Homo sapiens: one gene and its partner. The protein of the gene in region 1 purifies or fractionates together with the protein of each later gene. This does not show direct contact. Each region holds a gene or a part of one and is shown in the gene's direction. Other genes may lie near its edges. The genes, in order: RDM1 and PI4KB.

Region 1 (10,329 bases):
AGAGAATCTGATTGGTTCCACTTGGACCATGTGTGCCCCCTTGGTCCAATCAACTGTAGGGATGGGAGGAGTTAAGCAATACAATTATGGCTGCCGCTCGGGCCCTGTGGCCATAATTGACAATATTTTTTTATTTAAAAATGTGGACCGGGCATGGTGGCTCACGCCTGTAATCCCAGCACCTTGGGAGGCTGAGGCAGGTGGATCACTTGAGGTCAGGAGTTCGAGACCAGCCTGGTCAACATGGTGAAGCCCCGTCTCTGTTAAAAATACAAAAAATTAGCTGGTCATGGTGGCGCCTGCCTGTAGTCCCAGCTACTCAGGAGGCTGAGGCAGAAGAATCGCTTGAACCTGGGAGGTGGAGGCTGCAGTGAGCCGAGATCGCGCCACTGCACTCCAGCCTGGGCGGCAGAATGAGACTCTGTTTAAAAAAAAAAAAAAATGTGGCGGCTGGGCGCAGTGGCTCACTCCTGTAATCCCAGCCCTTTGGGAGGCTGAGGTGGGTGGGTCACAAAGTCAGGAGTTCGAGACCAGCCTGGCCAATATGGTGAAACTTTGTCTCTACTAAAAAATACAAAAATTAGCCAGGCGTTGTGGTGGGTGCCTGTCCCAGGCTGCTTTTTGTGTTATGTGGGGATGAGGCACTGACCCTGTGGGCCGGGATCTCTCTGGGGACCTTTCCCTTGCTTTCTGTCCATGCTCCTTAAGGCAAGCTGCATGGGAGGCTGAGGCAGGAGAATCGCTTGAACCCGGGAGCCAGAGGTTGCAGTGAGCTGAGATCGCGCCACTGCACTCCAGCCTGGGTGACAGAGAAAGAATCCGTCTCAAAAAAAGAAACAAAAAACGACAACAAAAAAATGTGGCATTCATCAGCTGGGCAGACACCCACATAGCTGTGAGCTCACCAACGGTGGACATTCAGATAGTCACCTTTTCTGAGCTTCAAACTAGATATATAAGTAACACAAATGGCTGCCTCTACAGGCAACTGTGGAAGGAGTCAAATCCCCTGCATACTCAAAACACCACAGAAAAGAATTGACAGCGATGATTATGCTGATCCTTTCTGGAGGGAGAATCAATGGTTGTACCTGGGACTTTTTTTTTTTTTTTAATAAGTAACTCTCAGCCCTGTAAAACAGTGCTCACCCCTTCAGGGAGATATGAGGATTTTAAAATGTGGAAACGTTGATCCAGGGAAGCAGGCAAACACCAGAGATGAGAGAGTTTTACAGGATTCGTCAGAGGGGACAGTGGAGGACAGACCAGAGGGCTAGCTAGCAATGACGGGGATTCTGGGCGTTGCTCCATATGCGAGACTCACCAAGAACTGGGTCATGTGTGTGGAAGAGTTACTGAGTGTGAGGCAAGAACCATGTCTTTTTTCTCCGCAGGGTAGAATGGAGGTTGCACTGTTCAGGCCGGCCACTCTTCTACTGGCTGACAGGATGCCGCCTGAGATGAAACAGGGTGCGGGTGCACCGTGGAGTCATTCCAAGACTCCTGTCCTCACTCAGGGATTCTTCATTTCTTCTTCCTACTGCCTCCACTTCATGTTATTTTCTTCCCTTCCCATTTACAACTAAAACTGACCAGAGCCCCAGGAATAAATGGTTTTCTTGGCTTCCTCCTTACTCCCATCTGGACCCAGTCCCCTGGTTCCTGTCTGTTATTTGTAAACTGAGGACCACAATAAAGAAATCTTTATATTTATCGAAATATTAAAGCACTCGCTCTGCAAAGACTGTGTCCATTTATTCATTAGTCTACATATATTTGAGTACCTAAGACAGTGGGAGTGTACTAGGTAGTAGAAGGAAGACAAAACACAGCTATTGTTGTTTAGGTGTTCATAATCTAGGTGGAGAAGCAGAGACATCCACAAACATTACAATAGGTAATTAAATGTATAGTAAAATCCATAATTATTGCTTTGAAACAGTATCAGCATCCAAGTAATTCCTCCAAAGAACAATTTTTGAAGTAAAAGAGAAAACTCAGAAGTAGGCAATGGGTGGGGTCTGGTATTGATGTGGAGAAAGTAGTGATGGGATGGAGAAATAGTGGCAGATACCAATAATTTGGGGGTGCTTTGGGAGAATAAGCTAGGATCTAGATGATTAAAAAAAGGTGCTCTGGACAGGATCTGGTTTGCCTGGAGGGTGCTGAGGTGGAGTAGAACATGCTTAAAGAAAAGGCAAAATCAGAAAAGTGACAGTTGAAGGAATGTCCTACACATAGCCACCGTCAGTAGTGTCTGACCAATCTGGGGTTTTATCTTGGACCACTTATTTCTCTACCACTGAGCCTTAGCTGTTTCTACTATAGAAGGAGGGATTTGACTATTCAGTAGTTGCCAGACTTTTGTATTTCACAGGTGATAAAATGTAAAAAATAATTAAACCTGAGATTTCTTTCTTTTTTTTTTTTTTTTGAGACAGAGTCTCACTGCGTAGCCCAGGCTGGAATGCAATGGCAGGATCTTGGCTCACTGCAACCTCCAACTCCCAAGCTCAAGCAATTCTCCTACCTCAGCTTCTCAAGTAGGTGGGACTACAAGTGTGTGCTACTACACCCAGCTAATCTTTTTTTTTTTTTTTTTTGAAATGGAGTCTCACTCTGTCACCCAGGCTGGAGTGCAGTGGCATGATCTCCACTCACTGCAACCTCCGCCTCCTGGGTTCAAGCAATTATCCTGCCTCAGCCTCCCCAGTAGCTGGGATTACAGGCGCCCCCCGACCACACCCGGCTAATTTTTGTATTTTTAGTAGAGACGGGGTTTCACGGTGTTGGCTAGGCTGGTCTCGAACTCTTGACCTCAGGTGATCCACCCACCTCAGCCTCCCAAAGTGCTGGAATTACAGGCATGAGCCACCGTGCCCAGCTATTTTGTATTTTTAGTAGAGACAGGGTTTTACCACGTTGGCCAGCCTGGTCTCAAACTCCTGACCTCAAGTAATCCATCTGCCTCGGCCTCCCAAGTGCTGGGATTATGGATGTCAGGCACCAGGCCCGGCCGAGGTTTCTAATTTTTAATTTTAATGTCCAAGTAAGAGCATTAAAGCAACTATCCTCTATTAGCATCTTTTCATAGAAAAATTTTTAGTATCAACATTATAGGGAGGTCATACTTGTAGAAGAATGGAGTGGAATCTACTTTATTTTATGAAATTATAAAAAACCTGATTATATTTTCCATATGGTCCTCATTTTGTAGAGTAGGGGTGAAAACTTTATCACAGCATGAGTCTGAGGATCATTATTCAGAAATCACAAGAGACTTGTCCTGTAGGGTCTCTTCTGGCTCTGACATTCTAGGATTAAAATAAACAGTAGTAGGACTCACTTTACTTCTTGTGTTACTGAAACTGCCTTTATAAAAATTATGACAAATCTGACCTAACTGATTCCATTTTGCTTCTAACCTCCAAGCTGCCCTTGCTCATTCCTGGGCACAGGCCAAGCTAACTATGAGAGGAATTTTTGCTGCTTAACTTTGAAACAAAGATAATAGTCCCTTCCTGAAACAAACCACCTCCCTGCTTGGGAATCAGATCTCCTCTGTAAAACTAACAAATTAGCCACAAGATTAGAAATTATGGCTCAGAAATTATGTAGACAGAGGCCACAAGATTCCTAACCTCTCCAGTTGCTCCTATACAAAACACTGTTGTAGTCTCAGCAATGCACCAAGATATAACACTCTGTAGTTGTCTGATATAACCCCCGGAGTTCTTTGTCCTACCTCCAAGATGATTAAGGAGCGTGGACACAAAGGTGGGGTTACAGCAAAAGTTTAATAAGCGAAAGAAGAAAGCTCTCTGCCAGCAGAGCGTGGGGGCCAGAACGGGTGTCCCCTGTGAGGCTGGGGTCTTTATGGACTGGGAAGGGGAAGCAATGTGCTTAGTCCGACAGCTGTCTTGGAGAACTCAGCTTGGCAAGGAGCCTTGGCCCAGGACCAATCAGGAGCTGAAATGATTCTTAGATGCTGCTTAGCTTGGCCCAAGACCTATCAGGGGCTGAAGTGATGATTCATAGAGGCTGGACTTACAGGTCCAAAAAGGAAAGTAGAGTGCCCACTGGAACTCACCGGAGCCCACTATGCCCATGCCCACAAAAGTAGAAGCAACTTCATCCTGGGAGCCCACTGACTATACAAAGGACAAAGGCATTTCTATGCCAGGCCTTGTTCTTTTGTCTGAGTGAGCTGAAGTTTTGTGCAAGCTTTTATCCAAATGGGCCAGAGGTTTTTCCATCTGTGCAGCCGTGGGCATGTCTCCAGGCACAACACCCTATGCTAGTTCTCTTATGGGTGCTGGTAGCTTGAATTTTTTCCCAGGCTGCTTTTTATGTTATGTGGGGGTAAGGCACTGACCCTGTGAGCCGGGATCTCTCCGGGGACCCTTCCCTTGCTTTGTGTCCAAGCTAACTAACTGCTTTCAACATTACTATTGTAAAACCTAATATTGGGGTTCTAGGTATTTTTCAGACCCTTCATTCTGATGGACCAGCTGGCACCACTCACATGGGCAAACTGGCTCATCTGGTCTTGCGGCCCCCAACCAGGAATTCACTCAGCACAAGAACACAAGCTCTGACTCTCTATGATTTCATCCTTGACCCAACCAGTCAGCATTTCCTATTCCCTGGCCCCCTGACTGCCAAATTACCCTTTAAAAAACACCAGCTTCCAAATTTTCAGGGAGGCTAAGTTGAGTAATAGTAAAACTCCAGTCTTCTATTTAGCTGGTTCTGTGCTTATGAAACTCTTTGCCTATTTCAATAACACTGTCTCAGTAAATCAGCTTTTCTGGGCAGTGGGTATGATGAACCCACCAGTTGATTACACTCCTCCACCACGTAGCTGATTATGACACCTACCCTTCTCAGACACCATCAGCTCCAATGTTGGTGCCTTATTTGGACTTATTCTTTGTGGGTTTGTTTGTTTGTTTGTTTGTTTTTCTTTTTTCAAAATTAATCTCTCCTTCTCACTCGTACCTCCAACCTCTCACATCATCTGACCCCCACAAGTACACATACACGATTCACCAGAATGACGTAGGACAATCAGGGAATTCTTTTTAAGGATTTCATGCGAGACTGTTAATGGTTTAGTGAGTTATACTTTTATTTGCAATTTTAAACTCTTAAAAAAACCTCTTAAGTCAAAAGATTGCATCTTTCGTGGTTATTTCCCACAAGTGCTAATACTTAGTACCCTAATCTCCTTCAGGAGTGAAGATGAAGCTGGCTTCTATAAACACGTCCCTACCCTTCCATCCTGTCAGCCTATTTTGGGACTTTACCCTAAACATGCATTGAACGGAAGCTCTAAACTCAGGGATCTTGTGGCTGTGACTGGAGGAGGGGAACAGACTCAGAGGCTGGCCCTAGGTAGGAGGGGCAAGGGAGCGATCCGAGCCCCGTCCCCGCCCCTCGCATGCGCCTCTTTTTAAAAAAGCGCGGGCGTGCCTTGCGCAGGCGCAATGCTGGGGCGAGGGTTAGCCGCGCAGGTGCGGTGAAGGGAGGATGGCGGAGTTGGTACCTTTTGCGGTTCCCATCGAGAGTGACAAAACCTTGCTAGTGTGGGAGCTGAGCTCCGGACCCACGGCCGAGGCTTTGCATGTGAGCCGGGGCCAGGATGGAGGGAGGGATGGAGAAAGCTGCCCACCCGCTGACTGGGAGTTCCGGAGTCCTGCCTCAGACCCTCACCTGCCTGAGCCTCCGCTGAAGGACTCTTAATTATAAAGGGGATCCCAACTGACAACTGACGACCCCCAACAGATTTTTAGAGTCCCGGAGAGGTATCTCTCCACCTTCAGAACGTTTTACCTTCCAGTGCTTCTTAAAGTTTAGGATTTTAAGAGGAAAACCTGTTGATTAAGTGGGAAGTGTTTTGAATCGCATCCTTCGCGAAGAGAGGTTTGGGGAATATGAGGGCATGTGCGGTTTTGTTTTCTGGGCGTGAGATTTCATGCATTTACTTGTCCCACCCCCACAGCATTCTCTGTTCACAGCATTTTCTCAGTTTGGCCTTCTGTATTCAGTCCGGGTCTTCCCAAATGCTGCAGTGGCCCATCCTGGTTTCTATGCCGTCATTAAGTTTTATTCTGCAAGGGCTGCCCACAGAGCCCAAAAGGCATGCGACCGGAAGCAGCTTTTTCAGAAATCTCCAGTCAAGGTGGGTCCAAATATGGAATTCCTAGCTCCGCTGAAATGAAGTGCTGAATTCAATAATAGGTTAGCATTTGTCCAGCACGCTGGTTTACAGAATATTTTCAGATGCATTGCCACACTAATCTTCCAGTTCTCTGGGTTTTTTACATGAAGAAACTCAAACTCAAGGTGGTTGAGCGACTTGTTTAAGGTTCCTGACAAGAATTATGGAAACTCGAGATTGAACTAAAACCTACTGATGCTAAACCTCATGTCATTTTATGCTGTCCCTTTTTAAGAAATCTCAGCTTGGGCAACAAAATGAGACCCCATCTCTATAAAAAAAATTGTAAAGATAAGGCTGGGCACCGTGGCTCATGCCTGTAATCCCAGCACTTTGGGAGATCGAGGCGGGCTGATCACTTGAGGCCAGCAGTTTGAGACCAGCCTGGGCAACATAGCAAAACTCCATCTGTACTATAAATACAAAAACTAGCCGGGCATGGTGGCATGCGCCTGTAGTCCCAGCTACTCGGGAGGCTGAAGCATGGGAATTACTTGAACCCAGGAGGTGGAGGCTGCAGTGACCCGAGATTGTGCCACTGCACTCTAGCCTGGGTGACAGAGTGAGACTCCATCTCAAAAAAAGAAAGAAAGAAAAATAAAAAATTAAATATCAGCCAGATGTGGCATGCACCTGTAGTCCCAGCTACTTGGGAGACTGAGGTGGGAGGATCGCTTGAGCCCAGGAGTTTGAGGATGCAGTGAGCAATAATTGCATCACTGCACTCCTGCCTGGGCCACAGAGTGAAACCCTATCTCTAAAAAATGACTGAATGAATGAAATCTTTGCCAGAAGACTTCTGCTTATATTTACTTTTTAATTTTTTTAGAGACAGAGTATCCCTGTGTTGCCCAGGCTGGTCTCTAAATCCTGGCCTCAAGCAGTCCTCCTGCCTCAGCCTCTTAAGTAGCTAGGTACAGGCCACCATGCCCAGCTATATTTACTTTTTATTTTTATTTTTTGAGATGGAGTCTCATTTTGTCACCCAGGCTGGAGAGCAGTGGCATGATCTTGGCTCACTGCAACCTCTGCCTTCCGGGTTCAAGTGATTCTCCTGCCTCAACCTCCTGAGTAGCTGGGACTACAGGCGCCTGCCACCACACCTGGCTAATTTTTGTATTTTAGTAGAGATGGGGTTTCACCATGTTGGCCAGTCTGGTCTCGAATTCCTGACCTCAAGTGATCCACCCACCTCAGCCTCCCAAAGTGCTGGGACTACAGGTGTGAGCCACTGTGCCCAGCCATATATTATATATTTACTTTTTTTTTTTTTAAAGACAGAGTTTCGCTCTTGTTGCCCAGGCTGGAGTGCAATGGTGTGATCTCAGCTCACCACAACCTCCGCCTCCCGGGTTCAAGCGATTCCCCTGCCTCAGCCTCCCAAGTAGCAGGGATTACAGGCATGCACCACCACGCCTGGCTGATTTTGTATTTTTGGTAGAGATGGTGTTTCTCCATGTTGGTCAGGCTGGTCTCGAACTCCTGAACTCAGGTGATCTACCCGCCTCAGCCTCCCAAAGTGCTGGGATTACAAGCGTGAGCCACCGCGCCCAGCCTATATATTTAGTTTTATGTGAATTTAAAATGTGTGGGTGTGACCAGGTCTTCTGCCAGCTGTTACATAAAGGAGACTGTATCATCATCATCACATCATCATCATCATACTCACCATGGCTCACAAACTGCCTGTTTGAAACTCCCTTCAGTTCTGAGAGGATGGGAACATTCTTTAAGCGGTATTGTAGAAACCCTATTCCATATTAACATGCCAACCAATTTTACTTTCCCAGAGCCACAGAATGATATCTCATTGTATGCCTCAATTCAGTCATCTTTCCCTTTTCAAGGACCATTTCAATTCCTGATTGGCTACTTGATCTGACTGCTTCCTACTAATCTTGCTGCCTATTCTTCTCTATATTCCATTCCTCATTGAATTAACCTTGATCAAATCTGAGAACTCTGCTTAGTAATGACTCCAGGTATACTACTCCCACTTCAGTAGCCTGTTCAATGCCCTCTTAGCCTGTTCAACACCCTCTTCAATCCTGGTTCCACTTTCTGTGACTGAAATGATTACCTGTGAGATATTATTTAACTTTTGAACTATGGTCTGTTTCTAACCTGTGACCATTTCACATAGCCACTCAAATATTATAAAGGTACAACTAAGATTATGAAACATTTACTTGGTATCATTTTGCAAATAATGAGTTTTTAGTGCTCTTTGGACATTGAGACCATTTCATAAGCTTTAGGTTTTGAGAATTTCACAGCATAAAGCCTATCACTGAGACAGTAATGAAGGAAATGTTCTACAACTCAATAGATAGGTGAGATGAGAGGGCATTCATACTAGATTTATTACTAAACTCAAAGCTTTCAGTTACTACTCACCCCCCACTGTAATCTAGTTTAAGTGTTCTTTTCTACTTTAGCACGTACACTTAGTTCCTGTCTTTTTTGCCTTTCTAAATACAGAAAAGAGAATAATGTTTTAAAATAAAATCAAGGAAAGGCCTAAGGCACCTGAGAGGGTTTTGTTTTTGCTTTTTGGGTTTTTGTTTTTTTGTTTGGTTTTTTCGTTTTGTTTTTTTGAGATGGAGTCTTGCTCTGTCACCCAGGCTGGAGTGCAATGGCATGATCTCAGCTCACTGCAGCCTCTGCCTCCCGGGTTTAATTGATTCTCCTGCCTCAGCCTCCAGAGCAGCTGGGATTACAGGCGTGCACCACCACGCCCAGCTAATTTTTGTATTTTTGGTAGAAACAAGATTTCTCCATGTTGGCCAGGCTGGTCTTGAACTCCTGACCTCAAGTGATCTGCCGCCTCGGCCTCCCAAAGTGCCGGGATTACAGGTGTGAGCCACCGTGCCCGGCCAAGAGGGTTTTTTGGTTCTTTTTTTTTTTTTTTTTTTTTTTTTGGTGAAATGAAGGAAAATGGTTGCTGCAAAGTTATCCAAGCTGACAGCTGTCTGTGCCACCCAGAGGCTCAGAGTTTTTCTGAAGCTTCCTGGTTGTCTGGAAAGGCTCCACTGTGACTCACGATACAGGCCGGTCTCGCCAGTGGCACTCAACGTTTAAAAACTGGTCTTTATTTCTTTCCCAACAGGCATTTCTCCTTCTTTTCAGTTGGAGAAAGTAATTTCATTTTTTACTTGCTCATTGTTTTATTCATTCAATCGATAGATCATCTGTGCTCTATTATATGCCAAGAACTATGCTTAGTTCTGGAAATGAAAAAAGAATAAGCTATGGTTTCATCTGGGACTTAAGGAGCTTATAAACCAGTGATAGAGGAAGGTGCATAAACAAATCAATAAAGAATTAACTTTACGGCCAGGCGCAGTGGCTCACACCTGTATCCCAGCACTTTGGGAGGCCGAGGCGGGCAGATCACAAGGTCAGGAGATCGAGACCATCCTGGCTAACACGGTGAAACCCCATCTCTACTAAAAAATACAAAAAATTAGCCGGGCGTGGTGGCAGGTGCCTGTAGTCCCAACTACTCGGGAGGCTGAGGCAGGAGAATGGCGTGAACCTGGCAGGCGGAGCTTGCAGTGAGCCAAGATCGCGCCACTGCACTCCAGCCTGGGTGACAGAGCGAGACTCCGTCTCAGAAAAAAAAAAAGAACTTTACTGTTAATTCTTATTAATTTCTAATACAAATAAATTTGACTTTATTTGTATCATTTGAATTTCATGAATATAATATACTACATTTAAAAAATGAAATATATAGGAAAACTTGTGATGTAAGAAATCCACAAAAATGGATAAAATGTTTTAAGAATTAACACTCAGTAGATATTTGCGTTCTCAAAGAAGCACGTAAATGCAGATATACCTCTCCTTTCAGTTGCATGTAAAATTTATAGAAGTATTTGTATTTCCTTTTTTTTTTTTTTTGAGACAGTCTCACTCTGTCACCTAGGGTGGAGTGCATGGCACCATCTCGGCTCACTGCAACCTCTGCCTCCCAGGTTCAAGCGATTCCCCTGCCTCAGCCTCCCGAGTAGCTGGGACTGCAGGCACGTGCCACCATGCCTGGCTAATTTTTAGTATTTTTCGTAGAGACGGGGTTTCACTATGTTAGCCAGGATGGTCTC
Region 2 (9,881 bases), on another chromosome or scaffold:
TCTAGCTTGATATGGTGTGATGTCAGCTTCTTGCTTCATCTTTACTCCCCGGAGCTGACTCAGTGTGAGTGACTCAAGCCCAGGGAGTAGGAGAGGAGCAGGTCATGATATACCTCCCTTCCCCCAGGGCTGTCAATGAGTCAGACAGGACCTGTCTGTGACAGAATCAGCTGGAGCGTTGCTCAGGGAGCCAATATCTTGCCTGCTGTTCCTTCTCCAACCAGCTCATAGGTAGAAATAGAACCACTAATTCATAATAGACTCTGACATCCTCACTGCCTTAATTCTCCCACCACCTTCTACCCAAAATGGAAGAGTTGTTGCCTTAGGGGCATGTTTCCAAATGTGGCTTCTCCCTCAAAGTGCTCCAGTCCCCAGATTCTTCAAGGAAGGACCTGACTATAGGACCTCCAGCTAGAATAGAACTGAAACCATGGAATTGAGTTCAAGTGGATGCTTGAATCTACTCAGCAGATTTCAGAGTAGAAACTCACCACTGCCCTCCTGCCCTGGGAGCTCTTAGGACTTTGTCTTTTAAGTCTAACCTCCCCCACCCCGACCTCAACGTCCCCCACAACCTAGATTTGTGCACACGTGCTGCTCTGTTCCCTGCCCTGGTAGACCATGTTGGACAGAACCCAGGATGAGCCCTGTGCATGAGTGTTGCCTCAGAGCTGCTGAGTGAGAGTTTGACACCATCTCTTTCCCCTGTTTTTGCACACGGACACATATGACACAGCAATGGGGTGATGTTTAGATAAATCCTCTGGGCTGGGACTAGGACAGCTGCTATCCAGCTAGTCAGCTTTCTAGATGGATATAGCTAACTCCCCAACTTATATCAAAAATTGTAGTATATTGATTGTCATGTGGATAGCCTGATAGGAAGCCTAAGGAGGTTTGGTAGATAGGAGATTGATTTATCCTTCACTCCCATCAGCATCCAGCCCAGAGATTTTGGGCTTATTGGTCTAGGATGCTCTTTGTCACAGAGGTTCAAGGTTGGGATTCAGCTTCCCAGGGTGATAATGAGGCTAATTAGAGAAGAGGTATACCTGCCACTGAAAGTTTAGCTTTTCTTCCTCCCTGAGGTTTCCAAAAAGCTGGAGGAACATGGGGTTTCCAGTATGGGAGCCATGCAGCTTATTAAGTTCAGTCCTGTGGTGGTCCCCATGGAGAAGGATTTGGTTGAGAGCATGTGAGTGGGTAAAAAAAAAGAGCAGGGAAGCTTGGCAGTGCAGTTACTGCCCTAGGGACCCAGCTTTAGAGCTTTGGCCTAGAAGGAAGATCCATTCAGTTGAGAATAGAAGTGAATAAAGTGAAAAGCAGAGGCTGCTTTGTCTCTTCAGTCCTTCTGACCTTAAAGTCTGAGCTGCCCTTCCAGCATCTCCTACAAGTGGTCAAGCATCTGGGCAAGTAGCATTTCTGAGTTGACTTTCTTTTATTAAAGCAGAAAGGTAGAACTTCACTAGAGAAGCAGTTACGATCCAAGTTGGAGCTAAATTCTTTACCTTTGTCTCTCTCCCCTCCCTTCCCACCCCCTCCTTCTCCCTTTGCCCTCTGGCCCTTTCCCAGGAGCTCTCCTCCAGCACCGAGAGTATTGATAATTCATTCAGTTCCGTAAGTGGGGCCAGGCTGGGACGGGGTGGCAGGCTCCCCCAGTGGCCGCATTTCCTCTCCGTCCCCAGGTCTTCTGAGCCCCCAGGCCAAGGCTGGAGTTAAAATGCCCCTTTTCTTACTGGGAGATCAGCTCCTCCCTCCCAGACCTCCCAGATCTGCTGGAGTTCCCCTGACCTTTGCGGTGGAAATCCTGAGCCCAGGCTGAGATGAGCTCAGCTGATCCTTCTCTCAGAGACAGCTGGAGTACAGTGCTGCTCAGCCCCCAGCTCCTGAGTGTCTGGAGCAAACAGCTGGGAGAGAGGTAGAATTCACTCCTGGATTAGAGCCAAAAACTGCCTGGCAGAAACCCCCAGGATCCTGTTTCTCCCACCCAGAACCCTTTCCCCATGGCTTCTGCCGTCAGATTATCAAATATTTATTCATAATCTTCTAAATGCTAGGCCCTGTGCTGGTGAGCTGACTCCAAAAACAAATAGGACTTGGCCTGAAGGAAAGTTTTGCCTCTCCACAACTGGTTTTCTTTTTTAACTTCAACCACATTTTTTCCAGGTCTGAGTTCTTCCCTTTTCCCAGCTCACTGCCCAGGATGTTCCTTAATCCCCTCTCCTTTCTTGTTCCCTCTGGACTAACCCCTGACCCTTTGGTCCCACAGGGTCTTGGACCTTGTTGCTGGGCAAAGACGTGAGAGGAAATGCAGGACCTCTGGGAGTTTGGCTGATTTTTTTTATATTTTCTATTTGATTTGTCTATCAAATCAGTTTTCTCTGTTCTGTGCTAATCCCCTTTCAGTCATGATTCCTATCTCCTCTCATGTGGCAGAGCCTCTCTCTTGAGGCCTGGGGTCACATTTCTAACATGCTCACGTAACTTAGGGGCCCCTAACCCAAATGCTGATTTGAGAATGGGAAGGAATTCTGCCTTTTCTAATCTGAGATGATTATGAATTGGGTGGGGTAGAGGGTCCTTGGGACAGAGATCAGTTGCCATCTGAGTGGATTCAGATGAAGGAAGAAGTGAGTCTTCAAATTTCCTCTTATTTTCTTTCTCTATTAGACCCCCAGGATATTTCCAGGGACCTTAGAAACCCAATTCCATTGTTTTCCTTTTCTTTATCTCTTTTCAACAATGTCACTTAAAGCATTCCTGAAGGATTCAGACACCCTCTTTCAGTCCCTATGTGGCACTCTGAACCATCTCCCAAGAGGCAGAGGCTGGAATGAGCTTTTCCTTTGAATCCTGGCACTGTTGCACATGTAGAGGTAGGCCTGATACTCCCCAGTTTTCAAAAGAAGCTCTTTTAGAGTTCGAGGGAGCAAGGATAGAAATTCTCTCAATCCAGAAACTAAGCAAGACACACGGAAAGGGAGAGAAAGGCTTGGTGAGTCAAATGCTGTTTCTACAAAGGAGGGGAGATGGGATGGGGAGTTGGGTGGCTGTCTTGATAAAATGCCCCTTACGGTAGAAGGGCTTAGACTGGGAAGAGAGCCTTTCTTCGTGTCTAGCTGAGTCCCTCTTTTTCCCCACCTGCACCTTAATTCCAAGACCAACTTTGCTCTTTCTGAGGATGACTGAATTGCCCAGCACAAGGAGCCAAACTCACAGCAGGGAATTAATATGAGGAACCTAGTCACTGAGAGGTAGGGGAAGAGGACCCAAAGAGGAGTCACTAAAAGAGACAGGCCTTCAGGGCCATCATCAAGGGCTAAAAGGAGCTGTTGCTTTCTCCATCTACCTACCTCCTTCCATCTGCTTTTTCTTTCTCCTTGATTAATGCAAAGTCTGCTCATCGGCTCATCCTCTTTCCATCCCCTGCATGTGCATTGACGCCTGGTAAGAGATTGTGGGACGGACAGGGGGATACCATGGAAATCAACAGAAGTAATTTGAATGACGAGCATCTTCCCTCTTTGAAAGTGGAAATGATGTGGGGCTCCCTTCTCTAGCCTTGCGGGACTTGACGGAGCCCCTCGGCAGAGATCTAGCCCAAGGATCCAGATGGGGAGAAGGACAACCCTGTTCTTGAAAAGGGTGAAACAATTCAGGTGTAAGCAGCTCTTCTCTCTGTGGCCCTGGCTAACCTATCCAGATGTCCCCCTGCTCACTCTGAAGCCTTGGTACAGTCCTTAAGGAACCCAAGTCCAGGAGAAGAGGAGTGCATCCCAGTTACCTGGACTCATGGCCTCCCTTACCCTCAAGGGATAGCCTATAGGGAAGGAATGTGCTGGCTATTCTCAATTCAAGTTGTGAAGGGTGGGTGGAAGCTCCTACTAAGACTAAAAAGCAGCTGCTTTCCTGGAGTTCTCCAGATAGTGGGGTCCCCGGCCTGCATGGCCAGGAGTGACTGAGTGGGTGTGCCATTGTATTCTATGGTTTCTTCACCATCTTTTGTCTTACCCCAAACCCCTGTAGCCTGTTCGACTGGCTCCTGAGAGAGAATTCATCAAGTCCCTGATGGCGATCGGCAAGCGGCTGGCCACGCTCCCCACCAAAGAGCAGAAAACACAGAGGCTGATCTCAGAGCTCTCCCTGCTCAACCATAAGCTCCCTGCCCGAGTCTGGCTGCCCACTGCTGGCTTTGACCACCACGTGGTCCGTGTACCCCACACACAGGCTGTTGTCCTCAACTCCAAGGACAAGGTAGATGGGTTCTGGCCCAAACCCCTACCCTGGACGTGACTCTTCACCCATGGTTGTTCAGAGTTTGCGTGTATGACCAGTGAGGCCCTCACCAACATCCTAGACTCCCTTCATAGTTCATGATGCATATGTCAACCATGACTCTGTCTCAGTGCGATTGTGATTTTGAGAGCCCCCCTGTATCCCTTTTTGGGCTTTGTTTTTCTGGACCAAAGAAACCTAATCTTTTTAGCTTCCTTCTTGCTGTATCTTAGGAGAATTGCTCTTCACCCCACCTTATGGTCATTTTGGTAGCTTTTCTCCAGCCTTTCTATAACTCTTGGGCTTTCCAGATACAGCAACCATAAGGATAGAGAAATATTTTGTTTCTAAGACCTTTTCTGATCAGAATGAGCCGACAAAAGGAGAGAAGGATGCCCAATTCACACTGGAGAGAATTAGCTGAATTTGTGTGCTGACTGGAATGAGTATTCATGGTTCAGATTCTTCTTTTTTTTTTGAGATGGAGTCTCACTCTATTGCGGAGGCTGGAGTGCAGTGGCACAATCTTGGCTTACTGCAACCTCCGCAACCCAGGTTCAAGCGATTCTCCTGCCTTAGCCTCCTGAGTAGCTGGGATTACAGGCGCCTGCCACCACACCCGGCTAATTTTTGTAGTTTTAGTAGCGACGGGGTTTCGCCATCTTGGCCAGGCTGGTCTTGAACTCCTGACCTCATGATCCACCCGCCTCGGCCCCCCAAAGTGCTAGGATTACAGGCGTGAGCCACCGCGCCCGGCCCATATTCTTCTTTCAAAGGAAATACTGAAGTTTGGGACACTCCTTGGGACAGTGCCCAGCTTTGTCCCAGTCTTTTTGTCCACTGTAGCTCCCTGGGCCCTGTCTTCAGGACGAGCCCACAGAGGCATCTAGGCCTCCCTTACAGCCTGTAATTGATAGTCTAGAGTGGTTTGGCCCAAGCACATCATCTGTACATTTTGGAGCTCAGTTGAAATATTTTGAAGACTTAAGGATTCTGTCACACAAATTCTTTACATAGGTGATCATAGGACAAGTATCTGCCCTAAATATAGTGTTCATAGTTTCAGAGGACTATTGGATGAAGGCTGGAGCTAGGAGAAAGGACAGCAGGAAGAACCTTGCTAACAGAGTTGAGATTTGGGGGTTAGTGGTGGAAGTAAGTTGCAAATACTGTCTCACTCTTCCCCCAGGCTCCCTACCTGATTTATGTGGAAGTCCTTGAATGTGAAAACTTTGACACCACCAGTGTCCCTGCCCGGATCCCCGAGAACCGAATTCGGAGTACGAGGTCCGTAGAAAACTTGCCCGAATGTGGTATTACCCATGAGCAGCGAGCTGGCAGCTTCAGCACTGTGCCCAACTATGACAACGATGATGAGGCCTGGTCGGTGGATGACATAGGCGAGCTGCAAGTGGAGGTGAGAGGGCTTCAGGGAGGTAATGCTGGGTCACAGGAGCTTTCTCCAGGAGCTTTCACTATATTGGAAACAAGACAGCATATCCCAAGGCAGGGTAAGGCAAGTATCCTAATGAGTGGTGTAGGTAGTGAGGGGTAATATGGGGAAAGCTCTGAACAACTCTAGCCTGGAATAGATTCAGGTGGAGTTCATTTTCCAGGTGAAGGATTCAGATTTAAATGTAAAGAGGAGCTTCTAGGCCAAGGGGAGTGAGGGAAATTTAATGAAAATATTTATTGAACACCTACATAAAGTTGTCATAGAATAGCAGAGGATGAGAAGTCATACATTAATTCATTCAAGAAATTTTTATTGAGGGCCTTCTATGTGCCAGACCTGAGTGCTGTATGCTAGTGAACAAGACTTGGCCCCTGCCTACAAGGGATTTATGACCTAACTGGAAAGAGAACAAGGCCAGTAAGCAAGTAGTTGTAGTGTGGTGAGAGTCAAGTCATGGGGGAAAGGATAGGACATTATAAGAGCACCAGACTTGGGGCGGGCATCACAAGAGATTTCCTGGAGGAAGTAATCTCTCAGCTGAGGCTGGAAGCATGGGTAGGAATTAGCTGGACAAAGAGTGCTGGACAGAGGGAACACTGCATGCAAAGGCCAGAAGACAAGAGGGAGCTTGGGCCATTATAGGAATTGAAAGAAATTTTGCCTGGCTGTGATGTGCAGGTGTGAGGTAAGAAGTGGTGAAGAATAAGACTGGACACGTGGGCATGGACCAGACTATAGGAAGGACCCTGTAAGCTGGGGAAAGAAACTTGAACTTTATTCTGGGGCATGAAGAGCCAGAGCAGAATTTTGTGTAGAGCTATTAACACAGCTGGCCAGGCGCAGTGGCTCACACCTGTAATCCCAACACTTTGGGAGGCCGAGGTGGGTGGATCGCTTGAAGTCAGGATTTCGAGACCAGCCTGGCCAACAAGGTGAAACTCCATCTCCACTAAAACTAGAAAAATTATGCCGGGTGCGGTGGCGCACGCCTGTAATCCCAGCACTTTGGGAGGACAGGGCGAGCAGATCACCTGAGGTCAGGAGTTCGAGACCAGCCTGGCCAACATGGTGAAACCCCGTCTCCACTAAAAATACAAAAATTAGCCGGGCGTGGTGGCATGTGCCTGTAATCCCAGCTAATCGGGAGGCTGAGGCAGTAGAATTATTCGAACCCAGGAGGCGGAGGTTGCAGTGAACCAAGATCACGCCACTGCACTTCAGCCTGGGTGACAAGCAAAATTCCGTCTCAAAAGAAAAAAAAAAAAAAGCCAGGTGTGGTGGAACATGCCTGTAATCCCAGCTACTCGGGAGGCAAGTGATTCTTGAAGCACAAGAATCACTTGAACCTGGGAGGCGGAGGCTGCAGGGAGCTGAGATCACAGCACTGCACTCCAGCCTGGGTGACAGAGTGAGACTCTGTCTTAAAACAAAACAAAACAAAAACACAGCCAGGGCCAGGCGCGGTGGCTCACGCCTGCAATCCCAGCACTTCGGGAGGCTGAGGTGGGCAGATCACCTGAGGTCAGGAGTTCAAGAACAGCCTGACTAACATGGTGAAACCCCGTTCCTACTAAAAATACAAAAAATTAGCCAGGCATGGTGGCGCGCGCCTGTAATCCCAGCTACTCAGAAGGCTGAGGCAGGAGAATCGCTTGAACCTGGGAGGCGGAGGTCGCAGTGAGCCGAGATCACACCATTGCACTCCAGCGTGGGCAACAAGAGCGAAACTCCGTCTAAAAAAAAAAAAAAAAAACACACAGCCAGGTTTCACTTTGCCAAAAGGCAGAATCTCTGTCTTTGAGCTTATAGTCCAATTGCAGAAATTAGACATTTAAGAAAAAAAAATTTAGATATACAACAAAGCAGTGTGTACTAGGTGACAAATGGAGTTGAGAAGAAATGCTCTGGTATGAAGGACAGAAGAGACTTGACATGGGCCTTGGGGTCTGGTAGAATATTCTGTATTTAGAGAGAGATGAGAAGATAAGATTGAATGACTTAGATTGAAGAAACTGTCAGAAGCTAGTCTGCAAAGAGTCTGCTTTGGACCCTAGGGGAGAACGCATCCCTATCCTTGGGGGACTCTCAGTGAGGCTGAAATTTTGAGCTCCTGTAATGGTCATGGCAGTGGTTTGCAAACTTTAGTGCATTGGAAGTCTTCTGGAGAACTTGTTAAAAATTCAGACTTTCAGATCCCATTCCTAGTAATTATAATTCAGATTGATGGTGGGGCCTGGGAATCTGCATTCTGGGTAATTCTACTGCAGGTAGTTCACATGTTGAGAAATGCTGCTCTGGGCAGCCTGGGGTCCCAGTAACCAACATGGTGTGTAAGCAGAGTTTGAAAGAGAGGGATGAGCATGCTGCAGTGATAGCAAGCAAGCAGGAGGGGAAAGACGGGAGACCTATACTTTAGCACTTCTGACCAGCACTCCCCTTTCTCCAGCTCCCCGAAGTGCATACCAACAGCTGTGACAACATCTCCCAGTTCTCTGTGGACAGCATCACCAGCCAGGAGAGCAAGGAGCCTGTGTTCATTGCAGCAGGGGACATCCGGTATGGCCAGATCACATTGCCCCTCATTTTTCATCCCTCTTTCAGGAACTTCCCATCTCTTTGTTACCTTCCTCTCCATCTCAATCATCTGTTGTTGGCCTGTGTCTTTCCCTCTTTCATTCTGTCCTTGTTTGGGGCCACCAAACTTGAGGCAATGAAGGTGTAGGTTGAGAAATTACTTGGGCTACCAAAGAAGGAAATTAAATTTTAAAAAGACTCCAAAGGGATGAAAGCACCAGAGGGGCCGGGCATAGTGGCTCACACCTGTAACCCCATCACTTTGGGAGGCCGAGGCGGGCAGATCACGAGGTCAGGAGATCGAGACCATCCTGGCTAACACGGTGAAACTCCGTCTCTATTAAAAATACAAAAAAATTAGCCAGGCGTGGTGGCGGATGCCTGTAGTCCCAGCTACTTGGGAGGCTGAGGCAGGAGAATGACGTGAACCCGGGAGGCGGAGCTTGCAGTGAGCCGAGATCGCACCACTGCACTCCAGCCTGGGCGACAGAACGAGACTCCGTCTCAAAAAAAAAAAAAAAAAAAAACAAGAAAGCACCAGAGGAAGGAGTTTGAGCAGTGTGTCTCAAGGTGGGGTCTCAAAGCGACTGTGTCAGAATCCAGGGGGAGGAAGGAGGACTTGTTGAAAATGCAGATTCTAGGCTGGGTGCGGTGGCTCACGCCTGTAATCCCAACACTTTGGGAGGCTGAGGCGGGTAGATCATAAGGTCAGGAGATCGAGACCATCCTGGCTAACACGATGAAACCCCATCTCTACCAAAAAAATACAAAAAAAAAATTAGCTGGGCGTGGTGGTGGGCGCCTGTAGTCCCAGCTACTCGGGAGGCTGAGGCAGGAGAATGGCGTGGACCCAGGAGGCGGAGCTTGCAGTGAGCCGAGATCTCGCCACTGCACTCCAGCCTGGGAGACACAGCGAGATTCTTATCTCAAAAAAAAAAAAAAAAAGAAAAGAAAAGAAAAATGCAAATTCTAGAGACACACCCATTCTGAATCAGCCTTGGTAGAGGAATATGGAGGGCCTGGTAATCTTAATTTTAACATGATTACAATCAGTTAGCAAAAAGGTGTCATTGGTTATGTTTTCTTCCATGAGTCCCTTTCAGCCTGGGTTCCTATCTTTGTGTGTCCAGAATCCAGGAGACAGTGCAGGAAATGTCAGTATAGACTGGGCATGGGGCTTGGGGGTAGCTTCTCCAAGCAAATGATGTATTTTCTTCCTGCCAGCCGGCGCCTTTCGGAACAGCTGGCTCATACCCCGACAGCCTTCAAACGAGACCCAGAAGATCCTTCTGCAGTTGCTCTCAAAGAGCCCTGGCAGGAGAAAGTACGGTGAGTTGGGTGTGGGTCTCTGAACCCCTCTCAAAGCTCAGAGGCAGTTGTAAGTGCTCACTGCACCAACTTTATTGTCCATCAGCCTCCAAAAAAATCTGTCAGGCTTCCAGGCTGTCTGGGTCCTTGCCCTATGGGGCGTTTGCTTGGGATTTTTTGTGGAAGCCATGTCTCTTGTCCTCACCCTGGCATCAACCTTTGACACCCTTTACTTCTGTCTTCACAGGCGGATCAGAGAGGGCTC

Evidence for each region.
Region 2: the proteins of RDM1 (region 1) and PI4KB purify together in Homo sapiens (affinity purification with mass spectrometry; 3 studies listed by BioGRID and IntAct, with this or other methods). This does not show direct contact.

What each region holds. Positions count from the first base shown.
Region 1 is NC_000017.11:35,925,931-35,936,259, reverse strand, and holds the start of RDM1 (RAD52 motif-containing protein 1), read left to right. Parts: upstream 1-5,486; 5' UTR 5,487-5,532; coding exon 5,533-5,628; intron 5,629-5,960; exon of another isoform or gene 5,961-5,977; coding exon of another isoform or gene 5,978-6,004; coding exon 6,005-6,184; intron 6,185-10,329. Other genes in the region: LYZL6 (lysozyme-like protein 6 precursor), read left to right, coding at 1,395-1,464. UniProt on the Homo sapiens protein: May confer resistance to the antitumor agent cisplatin. Binds to DNA and RNA.
Region 2 is NC_000001.11:151,301,950-151,311,830, reverse strand, and holds part of PI4KB (phosphatidylinositol 4-kinase beta), read left to right. Parts: intron 1-1,575; coding exon 1,576-1,620; intron 1,621-3,641; exon of another isoform or gene 3,642-3,664; intron 3,665-4,029; coding exon 4,030-4,257; intron 4,258-5,467; coding exon 5,468-5,695; intron 5,696-8,180; coding exon 8,181-8,290; intron 8,291-9,532; coding exon 9,533-9,637; intron 9,638-9,863; coding exon 9,864-9,881. UniProt on the Homo sapiens protein: Phosphorylates phosphatidylinositol (PI) in the first committed step in the production of the second messenger inositol-1,4,5,-trisphosphate (PIP). May regulate Golgi disintegration/reorganization during mitosis, possibly via its phosphorylation.